Linked DNA regions of Homo sapiens: region 2 is linked to region 1. Evidence: fine-mapped expression QTL. A gene starts in region 1. The other region holds a variant in brackets. All regions are shown on one strand. Distances are from middle to middle. Region 1 holds the start of AKAP8 (A-kinase anchoring protein 8). Region 2 holds the start of CYP4F8 (cytochrome P450 family 4 subfamily F member 8).

The links. PIP is the estimated chance that this variant, and not a neighbour inherited with it, causes the effect. A credible set is the group of variants that fine-mapping cannot tell apart.
Region 2: its variant is the best candidate, but not a certain one, in a credible set for the expression of AKAP8 in uterus (GTEx, PIP 0.52).

Annotation. Positions count from the first base shown.
Region 1 is chr19:15,377,232-15,382,444 of GRCh38, forward strand. AKAP8 (A-kinase anchoring protein 8) reads right to left here and starts at 2,556. Exons shown (of 14, transcript NM_005858.4): 1 at 2,482-2,556. The coding sequence starts at 2,500. AKAP8L (A-kinase anchoring protein 8 like) reads right to left here. Exons shown (of 14, transcript NM_014371.4): 13 at 3,286-3,381; 14 at 2,819-3,199. The coding sequence ends at 2,891. RefSeq lists enhancers at 1,697-2,612, 2,547-2,841, 2,613-3,527 and silencers at 1,802-2,351, 2,692-3,181.
Region 2 is chr19:15,614,462-15,619,674 of GRCh38, forward strand. CYP4F8 (cytochrome P450 family 4 subfamily F member 8) reads left to right here and starts at 757. Exons shown (of 13, transcript NM_007253.4): 1 at 757-819; 2 at 1,155-1,353; 3 at 3,539-3,683; 4 at 5,029-5,082; 5 at 5,174-5,213. The coding sequence starts at 1,156. The variant T/G (reference allele first, on the strand shown) is at 2,020.

The DNA.
Region 1 (5,213 bases):
GTGGGCTTGGAAGTCAGCTCCGCCCTGCAGAGGGACCTTGGCCAAGGACCTCACCTCTCCAAGATTTCATCCACAACTGAGGCTAACACAAGACAATCCACTCAGCATGAGGACACGTTCCCCCACCCACCACACAGCTAGGAAACCAGTTCAGAGTGCCATCACAAGTACTTCGTAACTGAAAACAAGCATGGGAATTTAGTGACATAAATTGCATCTTTCTAAGCTGCACTTCCTGCCACTTTTTGTTTTTTTGAGGCGGGGTCTTGCTCTGTTGCCCAGGTTAGAGCGCAGTGCCGCGATCTCGGCTCACTGCAAGCTCCGCCTCCTGGGTTCACGCCATTCTCCTGCCTCAGCCTCCCGAGTAGCTGGGACTACAGGCGCCTGCCACCACGCCCGCCTAATTTTTTGTGTTTTTAGTAGAGACGGGGTTTCACCATGTTAGCCAGGATGGTCTCGATCTCCTGACCTCGTGATCCGCCAGCCTCGGCCTCCCAAAGTGCTGGGATTACAGGCGTGAGTCACCGCGCCAGGCCCTTCCTGCCACTTTTAAGGCCTCCACGGATCCCCTGGACCTTTAAGTCCCAGAGCCTTCGCCTGGCCCTAAGGCATCAGACAGCACTCTTCACCCCTCCACACCCCCCGCCCACTATGGCATCTGTCTGGTCCCTCCAGGAAGGAGAATGGGAACTGTGTTCTCTTTATTTCTGTGTCCCTGGGGCCCAGCACTGAGCTGCGCGCGGGTGGCCACCATGCCTGTTAAATGACTTCACTTTGATGAGGCAGGAACATATCCATGTCTCCCTCACCAGAACAACTCCCCCGCCCCCGGCTAAGTGCCTAGTGCGTGCCGATACACCGCAAGCACCCAGCAAACCCTGTTGTCCGGAATGCCATTCAGAGACAAGGGAGCTAGGCTCATGGGTTACGAGACTTGACCCAGTCATACTGCTGAGTTTTGCCCTCTGCTATGCTACGCCTTCCCCTCCGTCATACCGCAAAACCTTCTAAATTCGCATCCGTGCAGCAGAAAGGCAGACTGCAGATTCCAACAGCAAGTAACCAACCTCGAGAGACTGCTTCTCTGTGAAGCTCTAGTGTAAGTGGCACGCACTATTAACCTTAAAACGCTCCCGGAAACACAAGAAATCAGGGAAGCTTAACTATCTCCAGTGTGTCTGAAAGGTTTTCGGCAGGTAGGAAGAGGGGGTAAAAAAAACCTCTCCAAACTAAGAATGAAAAGAAGGAATACAATACCTGCAGAAAAGATCTGATGGGAAAGAAGGGAAAGAATGGTGAAATCTACCCAGGCTGCGGAAGACCAGGAGAGCCAGGCTGAGCCTTCGCTAGGACCCGGAAGACACCAAAGCACACCGCGCACGCTGCCGCCTCAGGACCGAAACCTCTCTCTGCAATTTCTGGTGCTGGGATACTTTTGCCCTGCCACTTCTCAAGATCGACAACTTCTCGAGCTCCTGCAGCCAGGATCAGACCACTAGCTTCTCTACAACCAGTCGAGCTCCACCCAGCATGTCCCAACTATCCCCTGTGGGCAAACTTTGCTCCCAAAAGGCTCTGATTCCAGAAGCAGGGAGCAGGCAGCTCGAGAAGATCGGCCCTACTGCAGGCCAAGCGCTAAATCCTAGTGGGGAAAGGACACGTTCCCTCCTGCACAGCCCCTCGGCCCCTCCAGGCCACCACAACAGACTGCCTAAAGGAGAACTGCCAATGTCACCAGCCCCAGGGCACATCAGGTTTCCAGCTTTATACGAACACTCAGCATCTGCCCCTCACCATCCTGTCCCAAGCCAGCACGCGCCGGGTACAGAGCTGGAGCCCGGCGAGGCTGACTCTCGCGCCGGCAGCACTCGGCCCCACCGCGCTGCACCGGGGACTAAAGGCCCGACCCCGCGCAGCCCGACGGCTTCCGGGACAGGCGCCCTGGGCCACGTGAGCCCAGCGGAGACCCTACACGGCCCCGCGGGCCTAGGGCAGGTCGGGAGAGAGGCGGCCCCCGCGGTCCGCCCGCGGCCCCAGACCCAGCTCCCCGGGTCCGACCTCACAACCCCACGCTGTAGCTCCGCCCCCCTAGCGCCGCCATTTTGTGGCGTCTTCGGAAGAGGAAGCCGGGAGTGCAAACCCCGGGGTCGCTGGGGGCCGGAAGGACTCCGCCGAAGGTGAGGGGCAAAAACGGCCCACACTGTCTAAGACGCCCCCACGAAGCCCACCGCGGCGTCTGCCCCAACCCCGAGTCCCGCCCGCCTCCTCGGGGCCTGGCGGCCAATCCGCACGCAGAGCCCCGGGAGCGACGGCGCCAAAGCCCAATGAGCGGCGCGCGCGCGCCCTGGCCGCCTCTCCGGAGGGCCCAGCTGGGGCAACCACGCTCGGGACGAAGGCCCGGCCGGCGGCAGTCTGCGCAGCGGCTGCGTCGCCCGCACAGAGCCTTCCCTCCCCGCTCCGCACCCAGCAGCCAACACAAACCTCCGTAGCCCTGGTCCATGTCTTCGACGCGGCCCACCAGCAGCCCCGTTTACTAGGCGACCACAGCACGCATGCGTTCAGCGCACCTCCGCCATCGACTACTGGAAGACCAGGCGCACACGTCACTACTTCCGCGCGCCCCCATTGGCTGGTCTTCACGAGGGCCCGCCCTCGCCGTCCCAGCTGGCCTTTCGGGCTGCTACGATCCAGCTCCGTGGCCTAATGGGAGTTGTGGTCCCACCGCGGTGCCCGACGGCCCGGCCCGCGCGCATGCGCACCCCGCCCCTCTGCCCACCCCGCCCCGCCCGCGCGGCACAGTAACAGAGAAACCCGGAGGTGGGATGGGAAAACTTTATTAGGTTTGGTTTCCAGCTTCGGCCACGCGGGCTCCGCCCGCCCCGAGCTCGGGTCACGGGGCGCCCCCGCCGCCCTCCTCGTCGTCCTCCACGTCGAGGCCCGGGATGCCGCGGATCTGGCGTTGCAGCGCCCCTCCCAGCAAGGGCACGGCGCCCTCCTCCTCCTCCTCTGGGGGCGGCGGCGGTGGCGGCGACACGGCCCCGGGGGCTGGCTCTGGGGGCACGGGAGGCTGCGCCGGCACGCCCTCTGCGCCCTCCGAGATCCCTGCCGCTTCGCCCTGCGCCCCCTCGTCCAGGGCACCGCCCTCAGCCTCCTCCTGCTCCTTCTCCTCCTCGGGGCTGTCGGTGAAAGGGTTCTCGCCCTGTGGGGAGGGGCGCGGACACTGAAGGGAGGGAGCACAGGCGGGGACTAAGCTGGGGACAGGGCAGGCCCGGACCAGTGCCTCACCTTCAGGTAGCGCTCCAGCTTCTTGCTGATGAGCTTGTTGTTGAGAATACTGCGGGCCACCATGAGGGAGGACTTCTTGGACTGCTCCATCATGAGCTGCGGGCAGGGCAGAAGGAGCTGGAGAGGCTGCTCTGAGTGCCCTACAAGTTGCTGCCCCGACCCTGCCAGCTTAGAGGGACCCCACCCCGCCCCTGCACCCACGCACTTCCAGCCCCACCAACGGAGGGCCACTCCACAAGCATGGAACCACAACCTATCTGATCTTTGTTCAAATTCCCTCTCCTTCCACACCACACTTACTGTAGGTAAATAAAAATACAGATCTATATATCTCTAACTTTACGGCTGTATTACAGAAATCTGATTTGCTTACAAAAAAGCTATAAGCAGTGAACAATTAAGAAACTAAGAGCCAAAGGTGGGTGCAACCTGTAACAAGGTGCCAACTAGGCTAATAGGCAAGGAGCACTTTGGGGCCAACGGGGAAGATATAAAAACAGGAACAGATATTTAATGAAACGTCTTTTTTAACCCACAGAATTCCAAGAATGAAGAATTATTCCCAGTCATGCAAGGGTGAAGAGAGTCTTCTCTGCTGGTGGGAGGATCAACTGTTTCCGTATTTTTTGGAAAGCAGTTTGACACAATGTATGAAAAGTAAAAATCTGTCTCATTAATCCCTTCCCAGAACGTATCCTAAATTTAAGAACTGGAAACATGCGTGCACACTGATTGTAGTGGTGAAAAATGGGAAAACACCTAAACGTTCCTCAGTGCAGAAGAGGTTAAATAAATCGTACATTCAAAAGAACATCATGCAGCCCTTCAAATCGGGCTCATCTCTGCACTGGCATAAGAAAGGTGTATAATATAGTACTGTCTGCAGAGCATGCCAGAGCCATTTTGTCTGGAAGGATTTCCATCAATATGCTGGGCCATCTCATGGTGGGAGTACAGGCAAATCTCACTTTGATCATTATAAAAACCATAAGGTAAAAGAAGGATATTTTTGGTGGGGTGGGAGAGCCCATTGAGTCCTTCCCACTCCATTTACATGTTTCAGAAAGCCTTCTCACTTGCTGTTTCTACTCTCTCCATCTTCATTTTTTTTTTTCCTTAGCACGTTTTCTCTACTACTGGAGGAAAATATTAACAGACATCATACATGCTCACAATAAACTAAAGATACACAATTAGGATACTACTATAGACCGTTCCCCCAGTGACTCTCACTTGCCAACAGTTTATCCTCCTGGTTCTAGATGCCCAGATAACCACACCATAAATTCTCCCAAGTGAGGCACATTTATGTTGCTTCCAGATCTTCTCCACAATAACCCAGCAACACTAGAATAAACTTGTACACTTCCATGCTGGTGCTTTTCATTCTAACCAGGTTTGGTTTCAAAGTGATAGTGCCCAATTAACTGCAGAACATTTGCAAGTCATGCTTCTTCCACCTGTGTTAAAACAATGACCTGGTCCTCCTGCCTGCCCATCAGCACTGGATGTTGTCACTGTTGGGTATTTTTGCTGTGGATAAAAGACAGAAGAATCTGTGCTGCTGCCTCCCACGGCATTTCCCTGCCCACCGGCGAGTGAGTGCTCTGGTAAGCACACTGGAACACCCGCCCACAGTTTATAATTTTCTAACTATTTTCTGATCTTGGTTTTCATTTTTCACATTTAAATTTTTTTTTTTTTTTTTTAAGACAGTCTCGCTCTGTCGCCCAGGCTGGAGTGCAGGGGCTCTCAGTTCACTGCAACCTCCGCCTCCCAGGTTTAGGCAATTCTCATGCCTCAGCCTCCTGAGTAGCTAGGACTACGGGCACGCACCACCACACCCAGCTACTTTTTTGTATTTTTAGTAGATACAGGGTTTTCCTATGTTGCCCAGACTGGTCTTGAGCTCCTGAGCTCAGGACCTC
Region 2 (5,213 bases), 240 kb after region 1:
GCAGTACTGCCCATCATCAAAGCAAGGACAGAGCAGAAGGAGACTCCACTCAGGGTCCCCTGGCTCTGCCTTCCACTGTCTCGACCTCGTCTGCTCTCAGCTTCCCTCAGCGTTACCCTTCACAGGCCCCCTCTGTCCTCCTATGCTGAGCCCAGCATCCAGGTTGCTTTCCCAGCTGGTCTCGTTATCTCCAGAATCTGACCCTGGGTAATCCCCAGTGGTGCTGCATTCTTTGTTCCTGCTCCTGTCAGTCAGGTCTCAGCCTAGGTCCTGGGCTGCTGGGAGGCAGGACTTGAATTCCTGCCAGGCTGGCAGTGGAGGGCAACAGGCTTCTGTCTCTGAATCTCCTAAATCTGCACTGAGAAATGGTGCACAGCATTCTCCTGGCCCACATTTGGAGGGGAACTTGGGGGATGTTTTGGGAGAAGGCTTGGCCTCACCCAGCTCACCTGGCATCTGAACACTTCATTCCTTTACCTACCTTCCCCTGGTCTTGGAAAGGCAGGGTGGCTGCACATTTTGGGGCTCAGATCACCATTGGCTGCCCTCCAACTTACCCTCTGCCTTACATGAGAGGTACCAAGGACTGAGTGGCCATGCTCGGTCACCCTGAATTGGTTCTTCTACAGTTATGGTCCCCACCAGTCCCCGGGTTTTGGTTGGCTGCCCTGGCACAAAGGAGGCATCCAGGCTGTGAGGATTGGCTAGTCCAGCCCCGCCCAGCCTCCTGAAGTGTTTCCTAGATCTGGGGCCAGGAGCAAAAACCTCCTGGCAAAGGAGGAGAGGAGGTTGTGCGGGACAACCTTCTCCTGACAGAAGGTGCCAGGCTGGGGGTGGCAGGGCTGGATAGGGAGGGGCACTGCCCAAGACTGGGATGGCTCCAGGGAGCTGGCCCTGGTGATGGGTGCTTGCAGGTAACCAGAGGTCAAGTTGGCTGGTGGTTCTAGATGAGGCTGTCTGGTTTCTGGTCTCTAGTTTCCTTGATCTCTAATTTTGTGTCACTTCTCCTCTCCCCTCTCCCTTGGCCTCTTCCCCTGAGATTCCCTGAATCTCCCTCCATGCTCTTAACCATGTTTACCCATCATTGGTCCTGGAGCTCCCCAGCCCCTTTCCTAGGCCTCAGGACCTCACCCTCCATCCCGTCTGCCCTGCAGGATGTCGCTGCTGAGCCTGTCTTGGCTGGGCCTCAGGCCGGTGGCAGCATCCCCGTGGCTGCTCCTGCTGGTGGTCGGGGCCTCCTGGCTCCTGGCCCGCATCCTGGCCTGGACCTATGCCTTCTATCACAACGGCCGCCGCCTCCGGTGTTTCCCGCAGCCCCGGAAACAGAACTGGTTCTTGGGTCACCTGGGCCTGGTGAGTGGCAGGAGGATGGATCTAGTGTCTCAGGGTGGAAGGGTGGAAATGGGGCTCAGGCTGAGGGGGTGGGCTCGGGTCTGGGACGGCAGAGAAACTCACTCATTCCTCTGATCACTCACTCATTCCTCTTCCCACTCATTCCTCTCCTCACTCACTCATTCCTCTCCTCACTCACTCATTCTCCTCACTCACTCATTCCTCTCCTCACTCACTCATTCCTCTGCGCACTCACTCATTCCTCTCCTCACTCACTCATTCCTCTCCTCATTCACTCATTCTCCTCACTCATTCCTCTCCTCACTCACTCATTCCTCTCCTCACTCACTCATTCTCCTCACTCACTCATTCCTCTTCCCACTCACTCATTCCTCTCCTCACTCACTCATTCCTCTCCTCACTCACTCATTCCTCTCCTCACCCACTCATTCCTCTCCTCGCTCACTCATTCCTCTCCTCGCTCACTCATTCCTCTCCTCGCTCACTCATTCCTCTCCTTGCTCACTCATTCCTCTGCTTTGCCATGCCAAGCCTTTCTCATCTCCTTGTCTAGGGGAAGTCACCCCTAGACTGTTTTGAATTCTTTTCCTGACTGTTTTCAGTACACTAGTGAACCTCTGATGGGTTCCTGTGGCAGAGTGGGGGTTACGCAGCAGGTATTCACCA[T/G]TATTTCCACATTATCCACTGCTGTACTGGAGGCCTCTTGGGCTCACTGTCTAGAACCCACTTTCTGCCTGGCCCATTTGCTTGTGTCCATCCATCTCTGGGCTGGAGTTTTCCCATAGGAAGTAGCTATACACCCCCTACCCTCACATCATGACACAGCTGGGCCAGAAGAGAGATGTGTGCCATCTCCACCCTCCCCCGTGCAGGGGCATCTTCTTTATCCCCACTAAGCTGTCCCAATGAGTTGTGTTGCCCAACCTGGATAAAAATTGGCCAGTGACTTCCTCTTTAAAGTTACCTTTGACCCTTCAGACCCTGCCCTTTCACTTAGACCTGCTGTCCCCTTTGGGCGATTTGGCATCAGTCTGTTCTTTGGCAAATGGCAGGAATGATGGGTGTGTCCACAGGTGCAGGGTGAGGGAACACAGGACGGACTAGCTCTGAGCTTGATGTGCAAAAGGTGCTCCCTGGTGAGAGCCGCTGTTCTTCCTGACAGACAGTTAGAGCCACCTCTTCTCCCCTGGGGGCTGCTGAGAAAGGAAGTTCCACCGTGTACAGACCTTCTCCATGGGAGGGCCTGGGGCCCCTGAGGCCCAGCCAGGACATAAAAGGATGTGGGGACCAGCCCTGGGGACATGTCCTGAGGCCACATTGCTGCCCACACACCACACTTGTGGAGCCCACCCCACGTGACTTTCCGTGGGCTGGAGCCACTCCCAGGATGAGAAAATCCATCCTCTTTATTCAAGGTGGGCTTCTCCATGAACAGACAGTTTGTCTTCCCCCTGTTCCCTGGGATGTAGCCTTGGAAGTTAGATACTGCCCCCAAGAGAAGGGAGCAGGAGGGAGTGGAGATTACCCCTATGTGCGCAGAATCTGGACATGCTGTTCATTGCAGAGGCTGTGCCACCTCTAAAGCCTGCAGTGGGACCTGCTGTGGCTCCTCCTGGGAAATGTATTTATTTCTCCAGAGTAATAGAATTAATAGGATATCAATATCTACATCTATCTATCTATCTATCTATCTATCTATCTATCTATCTATCTATCTATCAGTCCGTCTGTCTGTCTATGATCTATCTAATCTATGGAGAGACAGAAGAGGGCATTTATTATAGGAATTGACTCATGTTTATGGAAGCTGAAAAGTCCCACTCTATGCCTTCTGCAAGCTGGAGAATCAGGGACACTGGTGGTGCAATTCCGTCTGGGTCCAAAGCCCTGGGAACCTGGAGTTCTAATGTTCAAGGGCAGGAGAAGATGGATGTCTCAGCTGCAGAGGAGAAAACAAATTCACCCTTCCTCCACTTTTACATTCTACGTGGACCCTCAACAGATTGGATGATGCCCACACAGACTGGGAAGGGGAGATCCTCCTTCCTCAGTTTTCCTTCAAATGCTAATCTCTCCTGAAACACTCTCACAGACATACCCAGAAATAATGTTTGACTGGATATCTGGGCATCCCTTAACCCAGTCAAGTGGACACAGGAGGTGATGGCCCTTGCCTTGCTTGCAGGTCACTCCCACAGAGGAGGGCTTGAGGGTCCTGACCCAGCTGGTGGCCACCTACCCCCAGGGCTTTGTGAGGTGGTTGGGCCCCATCACTCCCATCATCAACTTGTGCCACCCTGACATCGTCCGATCTGTCATCAATACCTCAGGTACTCCTGCAGAGCTTGTGGTGGTGGGCACAGGAGAACATTGGAGGGCTTCTAGATCTCATCCCCAAAGCTTCTGTGCAGCTCTTGTAGTACTCAGCCCCTTCCTTCCTGCTTCTCTCTCAGCCACCTTCCTCTTTCCTTCCTGTAGTCACCAACCCCAACCTCAGTGTCTTTTCTCTCTGCTGCCATCTTCCCCACCTCCGTGTTGTTCTGGGAACCACTGGGGCCCCGAGAAGCCTTAATCCAAGGCCCTGTCCTGGAGGAATCCCCAAACTTGAAGAGATGGAGCAGTACAGAGACATCCCCAACTTCATGGGGTTCAGAATGGGCCAGGAGGAGATAGGCTGTGACAGAGCATAGGAGAACAAGGTTTCTACTGGGGCAGGCTGGAAGGCTTCCTGGAGGAGGCGTAGCAGGAGCTGGGTGTGGAACGATGAGTGATAATTTTTTTTTTAAAGCAGGGGCAGGGTGATGCAGTGGGCATTGTTAGTATTCAAGGCTCCGGGCCAGGCTTGGCATTGGCCTTGTCCTTCTGCAGGCCCAGAGCAAGGACAAGAAGATGAGAAGGAGTTGTGGTTGGTGGAAGATCTAGGCTGCTATTTCCATGACATTCACCTCTTGTGGGTCGATTCCTTCTAATCCCATCCTGTGGCACTTCCACCATATGTTCATTGCCCTCTTGCTCCAGGCCCCAGGAATCTCCAATAGGAGACACCACCCCAGCCTGGAGCCGTACCCTTGCCCTCTGCCCTTCCCATCTTTGGACAGGCCAGGGAGAGCAGCAGAAGGGGTATCACGCCACAGAGACCATGGCTCAAGCCCCAAAATGCTGAGTGACTCTGGGCAGGTCCACGGCTCTCTATGGGTGCTGAGGTGTCTTTCCATTGTGAGTGGTAGAAACTCAACCCCACGCAGTCTAAGCCATTAAAGAGAAGCTATTGACTGCAACATCCAGGGAGGTTGGCCTTCAGGCACAACTGGATCCAGGTCTCACCTAATATCATCAGAATTCTGTCTTTAACTCTTATTCTGTAAATGTGTTTTGTAGAGTGTTGACTTATGCTTGGGTGTTGCAGAACATGTTGGACCATGTAGGAGCCATGTCAAGACATGCTGGGTGTGCTGTACCATGTCAGGGTGTATCATTGCTCTATAGTGTTGTTGCAGCCTAGTCCGGTCCCCTTTATGCCCCCCACCCTCCTTTCTTCTTCTGCCCATGGCCTCCTTCCTGCTATGCTGGGCTTGGAGAAAAGACGTCCAAACCTCTGGCTGGGAGCCACCCTCCATACCCAAAGTCCCTCCTCTATTCCTCTCCATGGACCCTGATGGTCCTCATTCATGTCAGATGCCATTACAGACAAGGACATAGTCTTCTACAAGACCCTGAAGCCCTGGCTGGGTAAGTAACTGTAGGTGGACGGGACGGGGACCAACTTTTGTGGCCAGGGGAAGATTCTGCCCTTGCCCACAGCCTTTGGCTGCCGTACTAGGGGATGGGCTCTTGTTAAGTGTTGGTGACAAGTGGAGACA